Regions from separate parts of the Homo sapiens genome. Here region 2 is linked to region 1. Evidence: fine-mapped expression QTL. A gene starts in region 1. The other region holds a variant in brackets. All regions are shown on one strand. Distances are between the middles of the regions. Region 1 holds the start of CAPN10-DT (CAPN10 divergent transcript). Region 2 has its middle 18 kb from the start of GPR35.

Region 1 (5,369 bases):
TCTCCTGCCTCAATCAGCCTCCCGAGTGAGGGGCTGGGACTACAGGTGCCCGCCACCACACCTGGCTAATTTTTTTGTTTCTTTTTTTTTTTCAGTAGAGATGGGGTTTCACCGTGTTAGCCAAGATGGTCTCGATCTGACCTCGTGATCCGCCCGCCTCGGCCTCCCAAAGTGCTGGGATTACAGGCGTGAGCCACTGCGCCCAGCCAAGGTGGGGGAATTTATTTTTTTAAAAAAGCAAAACAGGTTTATTTGGCTCAAAATTCTGGTGGAAATTTCAAGATTGGGCAGCTGCACCTGGTGAGGGCCTCATGCTACTTCAACTCAAGGCAGCAAGTAGAAGGGGAGAGGCATGCACAAAGAGATTACGTGGCCATATGGCGAGAGAGGAAGCAAGAGACAACCGCAGGAAGGCTGACTCTCTAACCAGCTCTCATGGGAACTCACCCCTCCACAAAGGACACTAACCTATCCATGAGGGATCCACCCCTATTACCCAAACTCCTCCTACTAGGCACCACCTCCTAACACTGCCTCATTGAGGCTCAAATTTCAATACCATTTTGGGCAGGGGCAGACCACATGCAAATCACAGCATGGGGTAATAGTGGGGGCAGGTTGACACAGGGCTGCTGCCTACCCAGCACCAGCTGTCTCTTGGCCCCTTCCAGATCCTGGCAATCTGGCTACAGGCATGGGCCCAGCCTTGGACACAGATGTGGCCACAGGAAGCTGTTAGCTCTCCAGATCTGATCAGCCTGGGAGAGCGGCACAACAAAGGCTCCCAAAGGAGAGTCGGGATCCTCAGCTAGCCTCAGCTCTGCTACCCACCCATATGTGCCCAGAACAGGAAAGATACGTGTTTCTTACTCCTCCGGGACTCCTAGGTGAAGCTGAGACCAGGCTCTTCTTGAGTCCTCTCAGCTATGGTGCAACCACCAGCCTAGCAAGGAATCAGAAACATCTTCCGGAAGAGTCAGCACCATAGAGGGTGCTGAATGGGCAATGAAGCATCCCGGAGATGAAACATCTGGGCAGTGAGGCATCCCACAGGTGTTGGGCTATGCAGTCACTCCCTTTCTCAGACCGAGGCAAGTACATAAGCACTCTGGGCCCCTAATCAGGGGCCTGGGGCCAGGTGGGATGAAAACAGCAGTGTCCTGCCACCTGAACAACTGCTACTCACGCAGGCCCCACCTGGCCTCTCAGAGGGAGGAACCTGGGACTCCTGAACCAGATTCAGTTTCTCCTTCAACAGCCGGGACTTTTCGCTCCTGACTGCAGAAAAACAGCTTCAATGTGACCATCCTTGATAGTCCGAGGCTGAGTAAAATGGCCTGAGGAGGCAAAATCTGAAAAGCTCTATTAGGTGGCAAACTGCTGTCACTAGAAGAGTTGAGGCCCCCTTCTCCTCCCCTGCCTGACCGCCTTCATTCCTGGGAATGGAACAGGTTCTTGGGGCAAGGGTGAATCCTCGAGCAGGTCCCAGGATCACTATCCTCACCTCCCCGCGGCACTGAATGGCTATAGCTGTAAATGTGCGTCCACGGGGTCACTGTCCAGCCACCAGGACCAGGTGCCTGGCCATCTGGGGAATCGGAAAACGCTCAGCGGGATGCTCTGGCCACCTCCCCTGCCCCCAGTTAAGATGTAGAGCGTTCAACCTAAAATGCCTAGAAACAAAGCCCAGGCCCGGGAAGGTCGAACGAGTGCGACGCCGCTCCCTCAAGCTCTTCCCTCGGAGCCGTCTCATTTCCCAAAACTCCCAAACACATCACAGAGAGAGGTGTTGAGCCAGGTGGTCACTCCCTTTTCCAGAACCACAGCAAGAAGTTGAGCCTGCTGGGCTCCTAACGAAGGCCCTGGGGCCCGGTGGGATGAAAAGCCCTATTAGGTAGCAAACAGCTGTCACTAGAGGGGTTGAGGCCCCCTTCTCCCCTGCCTGACGACGACGGCGGCAGGAACTCGACCGGCGCCGGACAGCTCGCAACTTGCCTTACCAAGCGTAAATCTCGGTTCCTCCCAACTACCCGCGGCCACGGCCTCCGCAGCAGAGCGCCGGAAGCAGAGACGCGTTTCGGGAGGAAGGTGCATGCTGGGAGCGGCGGCGCATGCTGGGAGCTGTAGTCTGCGACGCAACTCGGCCGAGGTGGCTCCCTGGTCCCTGAAGCTCCCAGAGCCCGCGTGTTCAGGCGGTCCCGACACCCCGGCCCGAGCCTCACCGGCTGGAGGACTGAACGCCTGCCGGCCCTCCGGGTATGAGCGGAGGCCGGGATAGCCCTGGGCTCCGCCGCCCCCGGAAGGAAAAAATACAGTGCGGTCCGCCGCCCGACCACGAAAGAGCGGAGCTCGGGAGCCCCGCCCCCTGGGCCTCCGACGTCCGTGGCGCTTTCCGTCGCGCGAGTGCGATTGGGCCGCCTGTCACGTGACCCGAGACCCCACGCCCGGTTGGCTGCCGCCTGGTTACCAATGGGAGACTAGCGGGCCGGCGTACTGGCCTGGTCCAGCACCTGCGGGGCCCTCGGGCTTGGAGGGCTGGGCCGGGCGGGGAACGGGCGGGGCGGGCCGGAGGCGGCGGCGGCTGACTCGCCTTCTCTCCGGGGCTGCGACCCCGAGGCAACCGGCTGCAGATGGGAGCCCGCGGAGCCGAGGATGCGGGCGGGCCGGGGCGCGACGCCGGCGAGGGAGCTGTTCCGGGACGCCGCCTTCCCCGCCGCGGACTCCTCGCTCTTCTGCGACTTGTCTACGCCGCTGGCCCAGTTCCGCGAGGACATCACGTGGAGGCGGCCCCAGGTGGGGCCGTGTGGGGTGCGGTGGGCGCCGTTTCTGGTTTCTGAGATCTCCGCTCCTCGCAGGGAGCGGGGCGGGGTGGGCGGCCAGGGTAGCTCCGAACGCAGGGTCCGCCGTTGTTCTCCTCAGAAGTGGGCGCCCGGCCCCCTCTTTTCGTACCTCCTTCATACCCCCGCCCAGAACGAGCAGGACTCGGCGCTACCCTAAGGACGCTAAACTAGGTCGTGGCCTCCGCCTGCGAGAGCTCCAATCCAGGAGGCTCAGAGCGCTGCGAGAGGCGTTTTAACAGAGCCCCAAACCCCGCCCCACCTGTTTGCTTTCGCCCTGAAGAGCGTTTGTGTCTGCTCCTCCCGCAGAGAGGGCCGCTCGTGCCCCTCTGAAGTGGCTAGGCCGAGCCCACAAAGCAAAGCGTGATAGAATTTCAGTTTTGGATTTTGTGCACCTGCCTTTCCAGTTGTAACACCTAGAAATGGCACCTCCAAGGGATGCCCTGGCCGAGTGCTGTGTTCATATTTTTAGAAATGGTTTATCTGCTGAATAAGACTGCCCAGGGAGCAACCTTGCCCTAAGTGGATGCGGTCTTAGCGGAGACAACTGATGGCCGCCAGTCTTCGAACAGAGCTGGAACTTCTGGGCTCTCGTGACTGAGATGGCTTTGACAGGCCACCTGGTTTCCTTGGACAACACTGAAGGGCCTGGGAGGAGGCAAGGGTCAGACCATGTAGAGCCTTGTCATTGGAATTTGGGTTTTATTTTGTTAAAAGATTGATTTTAGGTGCAGCTGGAGGCCACTAGAGGGTTTTGGTAGAGGAGTGGTTCTCTTGGATGTGTGTTTTTACAAGCTCACTCTTGCTGCTGGGTGGGAAGTGGGTTGTCGGGGCAAGAATGCAAGGGTCCATTGTAGTGGTCCTGGAGAAAGATGAAGGGGCTCAGATTAGCTTGACGACTGTTAGGATGTGGGTTTGGAGTAGATTGGTTTGAGACGTACCTTGCAGGGGGGATCGAGAGGCCATAGTGACTGATTGAAATAGAGGGTGAGGATAGTGGAGGGATCAACATGCCTTCTGGGTTTCTGGCCTGAACAGGTGGGTGGATGGTGGTCCTGGGACAGAGCCTGGGGGTGACCTAGAGTTGGGCTTTGCTCTCACGTCTTCAGGTGGAGCTGTCCTGGAGGCAGGTGGATCTGTCCTGGAGGCAGGTGGATACGGAGCAGGGATAGGCTAGAGGCATTCTTCTGGGAGGCGGAGCATATTAGATGGTTTACAGTCCACAGCCTGGGAGAGTGTCTCGGGGGAGTATCAGTAAAGAAGAAGGGGGCCTTGGGGCTGAGCCTTGAGGAACCCTAACATTTCTTGGGGTCAGGCAGGTGCCCTGACAGATAGACTTGAGAAGCAGCAGGCAGTGAGGGAGAGGACACCCGGGGAGCATGCGGCCTCACAGAAGCTGAGTGGGGACCACCTCAGGGGCAGCAGATGGCTGTTCTGCTGTTGTGAATGCTGCTGAGTAGTTGGGGAAGAGAGTTGGGACCAAGAGAAGCCCAGTGGGTTTGATAACATAGAGGTGACAGCGACATTGATCGAGGCAGTTTAGGGGCCATGATTGGCTCAGAAGCTAGAGGAGCCTGTGTGGAGAGTGAATGGGAAGCAGGTAGTGGGCATGGCAGCTCTTTCAAGAGCTGTAATGAAGAGAAGCCTGAAGGAGACTATGGTGCTGAGAGATAATGTCTTAAAGAACATGGGGGTGGGATTCTGCCCGGGGAGCTGGAAGGGAAGGAGTTGTGAGAGGAGCCCAGGCTCTGAGGGCAGGAGAGAGGGTCAGGTCCAGAAGCAGGAGGCAAGGTCGAAGCTCAGAGGGGTGGGCAAGGGCAGTGTGGATGTTTTGAGTAGACGGGGAGAAAGGGGAAGGTATATGATAGTTAGGGGGTGTGGGAAATGGAGCCTGCTAGAGAAACAGATTTCCAGCAGGATGGAGGACACATTTGAGATTTACCAGCATGAGTAAAAAGTGAAACTTTTCGAAGCCAACATTTAGCTGTTTTGAGAAGGAGCTTGCTAGAGTTTGGGATTTTTCCAGTAAGGAAGGAAGGCACCCCAGAATTAAGCTGGACAGAGGCATTTGAAGCCAGGAGCTGAAGGACACCCGCTGCAGGAAACCACCTTCCTGTCCCTTTTTGGGTAACACTGATGATCGGAAAAGCTCCACCCCAACTCCTGTCATCTAGAGCCTTGGGTTCTTAGTTTGAAGGGTTCCACAGCAGGCATGATCTAACTCTGGACAACTTTCTGTATCTCAGGAGATTTGTGCCACACCCCGGCTGTTTCCAGATGACCCACGGGAAGGGCAGGTGAAGCAGGGGCTGCTGGGGGATTGCTGGTTCCTGTGTGCCTGCGCCGCGCTGCAGAAGAGCAGGCACCTCCTGGACCAGGTGCGGGGCCCCTTCCCTGTGTTTGTCCTGGAGCCGGTTTCTTTTTGCGTTTCTCCAGCCTGCTGAGTACCAGGAGGCCTTGCGAAAGCAGAGCTGTGCCGCAGCCGGATCTCCTGCTGTGTTGGGGGAAGGCAGGAGAGTTCCAAGGCAGAGG
Region 2 (5,369 bases), 21 kb after region 1:
TGGGCTGAAGACCGTCTCCCCACCATGGTGGGAAGGGACAAAGGGTGGCCCTGGCAGATCCGGACGGGCAGGACTGGGTGTGTCCCATGAGAGCACCTCCTTCCTGGCCTTTCCTGTGGACTTTGTCCCACACCACCTGCCTGGGTTCCTTCCTTTAGTCACTTCCAGCTCCAGGCACAGCAGTTGGTGACTCCTTGGTGGGAGCCGTGTCCCACCCGGTCCTGATACTGCCGTCTTCTCTTTCACAGTCCTCCAGGCTTGGGCCAGCCTTGGGGGCAGCAGAGCTTCTGGGGTGAGTGTCGAGATCCTGTGTCCTGAGAGCGGTAGTCAGGGAGAGGGCTGGTCGGGGCAGGGCTGCCCGGGCAGGACACAGGATGCGGCCGGCCAGGCTGGGGCCAAGGTGTTCAGACCTGGACTTTGGGCTCGTGCTTTCTTCATGGTTGCGCCTTGCTCGCTGTCCCTTGGAGTCTTCATTTGGTTTTGCTTTTTTTGTTTGTTTGTTTTCACCTAATTTTTGCCAGACTTAAGCTAGTTTTGCTGCCTTTTGAAACTAGTGGAAGAATCATTTTATTCCTGGGGATAATTTGGGGCCTTTTGATCCCAACGTGAAGCCCTGCACATGGCTGCTTCATCAGGGGAAGGGTCTTTTCTGCTTTGGAGGAAAGGCTTTGGCAGGCAGGCTGACCTGGGAGTCTCCGGAGCTCTCGGCTCTCTGTAGCATCCTGGGGAGCTCAGACCATGGCTGCAGGGCTCTGGCCATAGCTTGCAGGCCATCTGGTTAGTGCTGCCCCCCAAACCCGGCCATTCCTCTCTAGTCCCCAGCAGGTATAGCCAGTGTCCACATAGACAGCACTGCCTCAGATCTGGGCTGGGACCACAACACTCACTCAGGGATCCCAGGGAACATGGCACCAGGTTTAGTAGGTTTAGTCGGGCATATGCAGTGTCCCTTACCCAGGTCAAGGCTCAGGCTGGGCCCATCTTAGCTGCCTGGGACACCCAGTCCTTTTATGAATCTGCCAGGGGAGGAGCAGCCAGGCTTGGGCTGGGGCCTGGATGGACGTGACATCGGGCACTGTGGCATTGTGTGCCTGTCTCTGTGTTGCAGCTGACATGGGCTCATTGCTCCTTCTCCAAGCCCTCTGAGGACATCAAAAGCGTGGACGCATCACTTTCCACCATCTTGCTGCCCACTGTCCCTCCATCCTGAGGCCTCCTAAGCACATGTGTGGGGTGGCAGGCACACTGCTGATAGCTGTGGATGCGGCCGTGACATCCTTCACCCCTGCCCCCATGGCATGCATGATCCATTAGGGAGGACCGTCTGCACAAAGGTAATCCATTGACTCAGACAGGGGGTTCATAGAAGAACAGGTGAGAGTGGCAGGGGGGGTATTCCTTGACCAGCTGAGGGTCAGCCAAGGGCAGGAAAGGGGCTGGGCACCCTCAGGGAATTGAAAGAAGCTCTCTGTGCCTGCAGTGCGGGGAGTGGGCTTGGAGAATATGGCAAGAGCTGAGGCTGGAGATGTAAGCAGGGGCCTTAAGTGTTGTTTAAGGAGCCTGAGTCTTATCTCCTGGGCAATTGGGAGCCACTACATAGTTTAAAGCAGGGCCTAACATACATATGTTTGAAATCTTTCTCTGGCTGAAGTCTCGAGGATGAATTGGAAGTAGAGGACCAACTAAAAAGTTGTTGCAGACATTAAGGTGGTGTCCTGGGTTAGGTGGGAGGTGATGGAGAGGAGAATAGGCTAGTGTTGACATATACCCAGGAAGCAAAACCATTGGGGCATGGTGCTTAATGCTTGATTGGATTGATCACATAGATGACTATGAGGAGGACTGACATATTTCAATCTATGAACGTGGTATACCCATCCATTTACTTATTTTTAATTTTTTAAAAATTTTTTTTTTTTTTGAGACAGGATCTCACTCTGTTTGTCCAGGCTGAAGTCCAGTGGCAGGATTTCAGCTCACTGCAGCCTCAACCTCCTGGGCTCAGGTGATTCTCCCACCTTAGCCTCCCGAGTAGCTGGGACTACAAGCACAGATCACCACACCTGGCTAATTTTTTGCATTTTTGTTTTTTAGTAGAAACAGGGTTTCGCTATGTTGCCCAGGCTAGTCTCAAACGCCTGGACTCCAACAATCCACCCACCTTGGCCTCCCGGAGTGCTGGGATTATAGGCTGGGGCCACTGTGCTGAACCCTGTCCATTTATTTGGATCTTCTTTAATTTCTCCCAGCAATATTTTGTAACTTCAAGCATACGTTTCCCACTTGTGCCTAGGTACTTTGTTTTCCAATGCTTGTAAATGGTATTGTATCTTTAGTTTTATTTTCCAATTGTTTTTTGCTAGTATATAGAAGTGCATTTTTTGGTATATTAATCTTGTATCCTGTAACCTTGATAATGCATTTATTAGTTCATAGTGTTTTTTGCTTCTTTTGTTCTTTTCTGGTAAATGCCTTAGGATTTTCTTTTTCTCCCGACTCCCCGCCTTCCTCCTCTTCTTTTTCTTCTGCCTTAGGATTTTCTTTTTCTTCTTTCTCCTCCTTCTCTTCCTCCTCCTCCTCCTCCTCTTCTTTCTTCTTTCTTCTTCTTCTTCTCTTTTTTGTTTTTAAATTGAGACAGGGGCTCACTCTGTTGCCCAGGCTGGAGTACAGTGATGCAATCTTAACTCACTGTAGTCTCAAACTCCTGGGCTCAAGTGATCCTCCCACCTCAGCTTCCCAAGTAGCCAGGACTACAGGTGTGCACCATCATGCCTGGCTAATTTTTATATGTTTTGTAGAGATTGGGTCTTGCTATGTTGCTCGGGCTGGTCTTGAACTCCTATCTTCAAGCGATCTTCTCACTTCAGCCTCCCCACATGTTGGGATTACAGGCCTGAGCTACTGTGCCAAGCTGAATTTTCTACATGCATGATTATGTCACATGTGACCATAGGTAATTTTACTTCTTCCTTTTCTATCTGCTTTTTTCCCTTGCCTTATTTCCTCTGGCTGGGACCTCCAATACCGTTTTTAATAGAAATGTGAGAGCCACTTCGTTTGTTTCTGAGTATAGTGAGAAAGTTTGGTCTTTTACCATTGCCCAGCTTGAAGTTTCCTATAGTTTATCTATAGGTGATCTTTATCACGTTGAGGAAGTTCTCTTCTCTTTCTAGTTTGCCGAGAGTTTCTAT[T/C]ATTCATGGATGTTGCATTTTGTCAAATATTTTTCTGCATCCATTGAGATAAATATATACATTTTACCATTTATTCTATTAATTGATGTTCTAATGCTAAAATAAACCTTTTATTTCTTGCATACTTTTTCATGATGTGTTATTTGTTTTATATATTGCTGGATTTGATTTGCTAATATTTTATTAAGGATTTTATGTCTATGTTTATGCATGATATTGGCCTGTAGTTTTCTTTTCTTGTAATATCTTTGTCCAGTTTTGGTACAGGGTAAAACTTGACTTAGAAAATGAGCTGGCCAGTGTTTCTCCTTTTTTCTGATGTGGTTAAGATTGGTATTATTTTATTCTTAAGTGTTTGATGGAATTCATCAGTAACACCATCTGGGTGAGGTATTTTCTTTGTAGAAAGGCTTCAAATTATGAATTCAACAACTTTAATAGATATAAGCTTGTTACATTTTATTTTTCTTGTGTAAATTTTGGCAAGTTGTGACTTTCAGTAGATGTTTTTCCATTTCATCAAGATGTCAAATGTAATTTCATGATGTTCTTACTAATATTCTTGTATTATTCTTCTGATGTCTGTAGGGTCTGAAGGGATGTCTCATCTTTTATTCCTGATATTAGTAATTTGTGGATTTTTTTTCTTTGATCAATCTAGCCAGAGCTTTCTCAATTTTTTTTTCTTTTCAAATAACCAATCTCCATTTTATTGATTTTCGTTTTTTTCTGCTAGTACATCAAATTTTCACTCTTTCTTATTTCTTCTGCTTACTTGGGTTTCATTTGTTCTTGGTGTTGTTGTTTTCTAGATTCTCAAAGTGGAATCTTAGGTAATGATTTTAGACCTTTCTTCTTTCCTAACATGAACACTGAGAGCTACAGATTTTCCTCTAAGCATCACACTAACCTTATCTCACAAAGACCGGAAAGTTGCATTTTTATCATCACTTAGTTCAAAGTATTTTCTTATGTCTCCTTGATTACTTCTTTGATCCCTGAGTTATTTAAATGTGTTGCTTAATTTTCAAATATTTGGGCATTCTTTGTGTGTCTTATACCTTGTTGCTATTGATTTCTAATTAAGCTCTGTTGTAGTTAGAGAACATATTCTGTATAACTTAAATCTTTTTAATTTTATGGAGGCTTAATTTATGGCCTAGCAGATGGACTATTTTGGAAAATGTTCAATGTGCACCTGAAAAGATTATATATTCTGCTGTTGTTGGGCATAGTGTTCTATAAACATCAGTTTGGATAAGATGATTGGTGTTGCTCAGGGCTATCATATTCTTACTAATTTTTGGTTTACTTGTTCTGTGAGTTACTGAGATGAGGGTGTCATAATAACCGATCACAATCATGAATTTGTCTGTTTATCCTTTCAGTTCTATCAGCTTCCTTCATTTTTTGGATTCTTTGTAATTAGGTACATACACATTTAGAATTGTTAGATATTCTTGATGAATTGACCCTTTTTTCATATGAAATATCCTTTTTTTTTTTTTGAGATGGAGTCTCGCTCTGTCAACCAGGCTAGAGTGCAGTGGCGCAATCTCAGCTCACTGCAACCTCCGCCTCCTGGGTTCAAGTGATTCTCCTGCCTCAGCCTCCTGAGTAGCTGGGATTACAGGTGCCCACCACTGCGCCTGGCTAATTTTTGTATTTTTAGTAGAGACGGGGTTTCACCATCTTGGCCAGGCTGGTCTCAAGCTCCTGACCTTGTGGTCTGCCCACCTCAGCCTCCCAAAGTGCTGGGATTACAGGCGTGAGCCAACACGCTGGTCCGTGAAATGTCCCTTTTTTTATTTTGCAATATTCCCTATACTAAAGTCTACTTTGATGTTAATATTTTTATTCCTGCTTTCTTATAATTAATGCTTGCATTTTATAAATTTTTCCATTCTTTTACATTGTTTTCATTCTTTTACTTTTAACTTTTGTTTATATTTAAAGTATATATCATATCAGGCAGACAGCATATTGTCATTTCTTGCTTTCTTTTCCCCTAAGACGAAGAGTCTCCTGTCACTCAGCCTGGAATACAGTGGTACCATCAGGGCTCACTGCAGCCTCAAACTCCTAGATTCAAGCAATCCTCCCATCTCAGCCTCCCAAGTAGCTAGGACTACAGGCATGTGGCACCACACGTGGCTAAGTTTTTAACTTTTTTTTTTC

The links. PIP is the estimated chance that this variant, and not a neighbour inherited with it, causes the effect. A credible set is the group of variants that fine-mapping cannot tell apart.
Region 2: its variant is the best candidate, but not a certain one, in a credible set for the expression of CAPN10-DT in esophagus mucosa (GTEx, PIP 0.79).

Annotation. Positions count from the first base shown.
Region 1 is chr2:240,584,260-240,589,628 of GRCh38, forward strand. CAPN10-DT (CAPN10 divergent transcript) reads right to left here and starts at 2,057. Exons shown (of 1, transcript NR_103792.1): 1 at 1-2,057. It overlaps CAPN10 (calpain 10), which reads left to right and starts at 2,475. Exons shown (of 12, transcript NM_023083.4): 1 at 2,475-2,793; 2 at 5,084-5,215. The coding sequence starts at 2,653. RefSeq lists enhancers at 222-291, 662-1,031, 2,022-2,201, 2,253-2,547, 2,486-3,312 and a silencer at 2,512-2,741.
Region 2 is chr2:240,605,279-240,610,647 of GRCh38, forward strand. It overlaps a transcript of GPR35 not described here. Among named protein-coding and RNA genes, the nearest start is that of GPR35, 18 kb to the right of the region's middle. The variant T/C (reference allele first, on the strand shown) is at 3,192.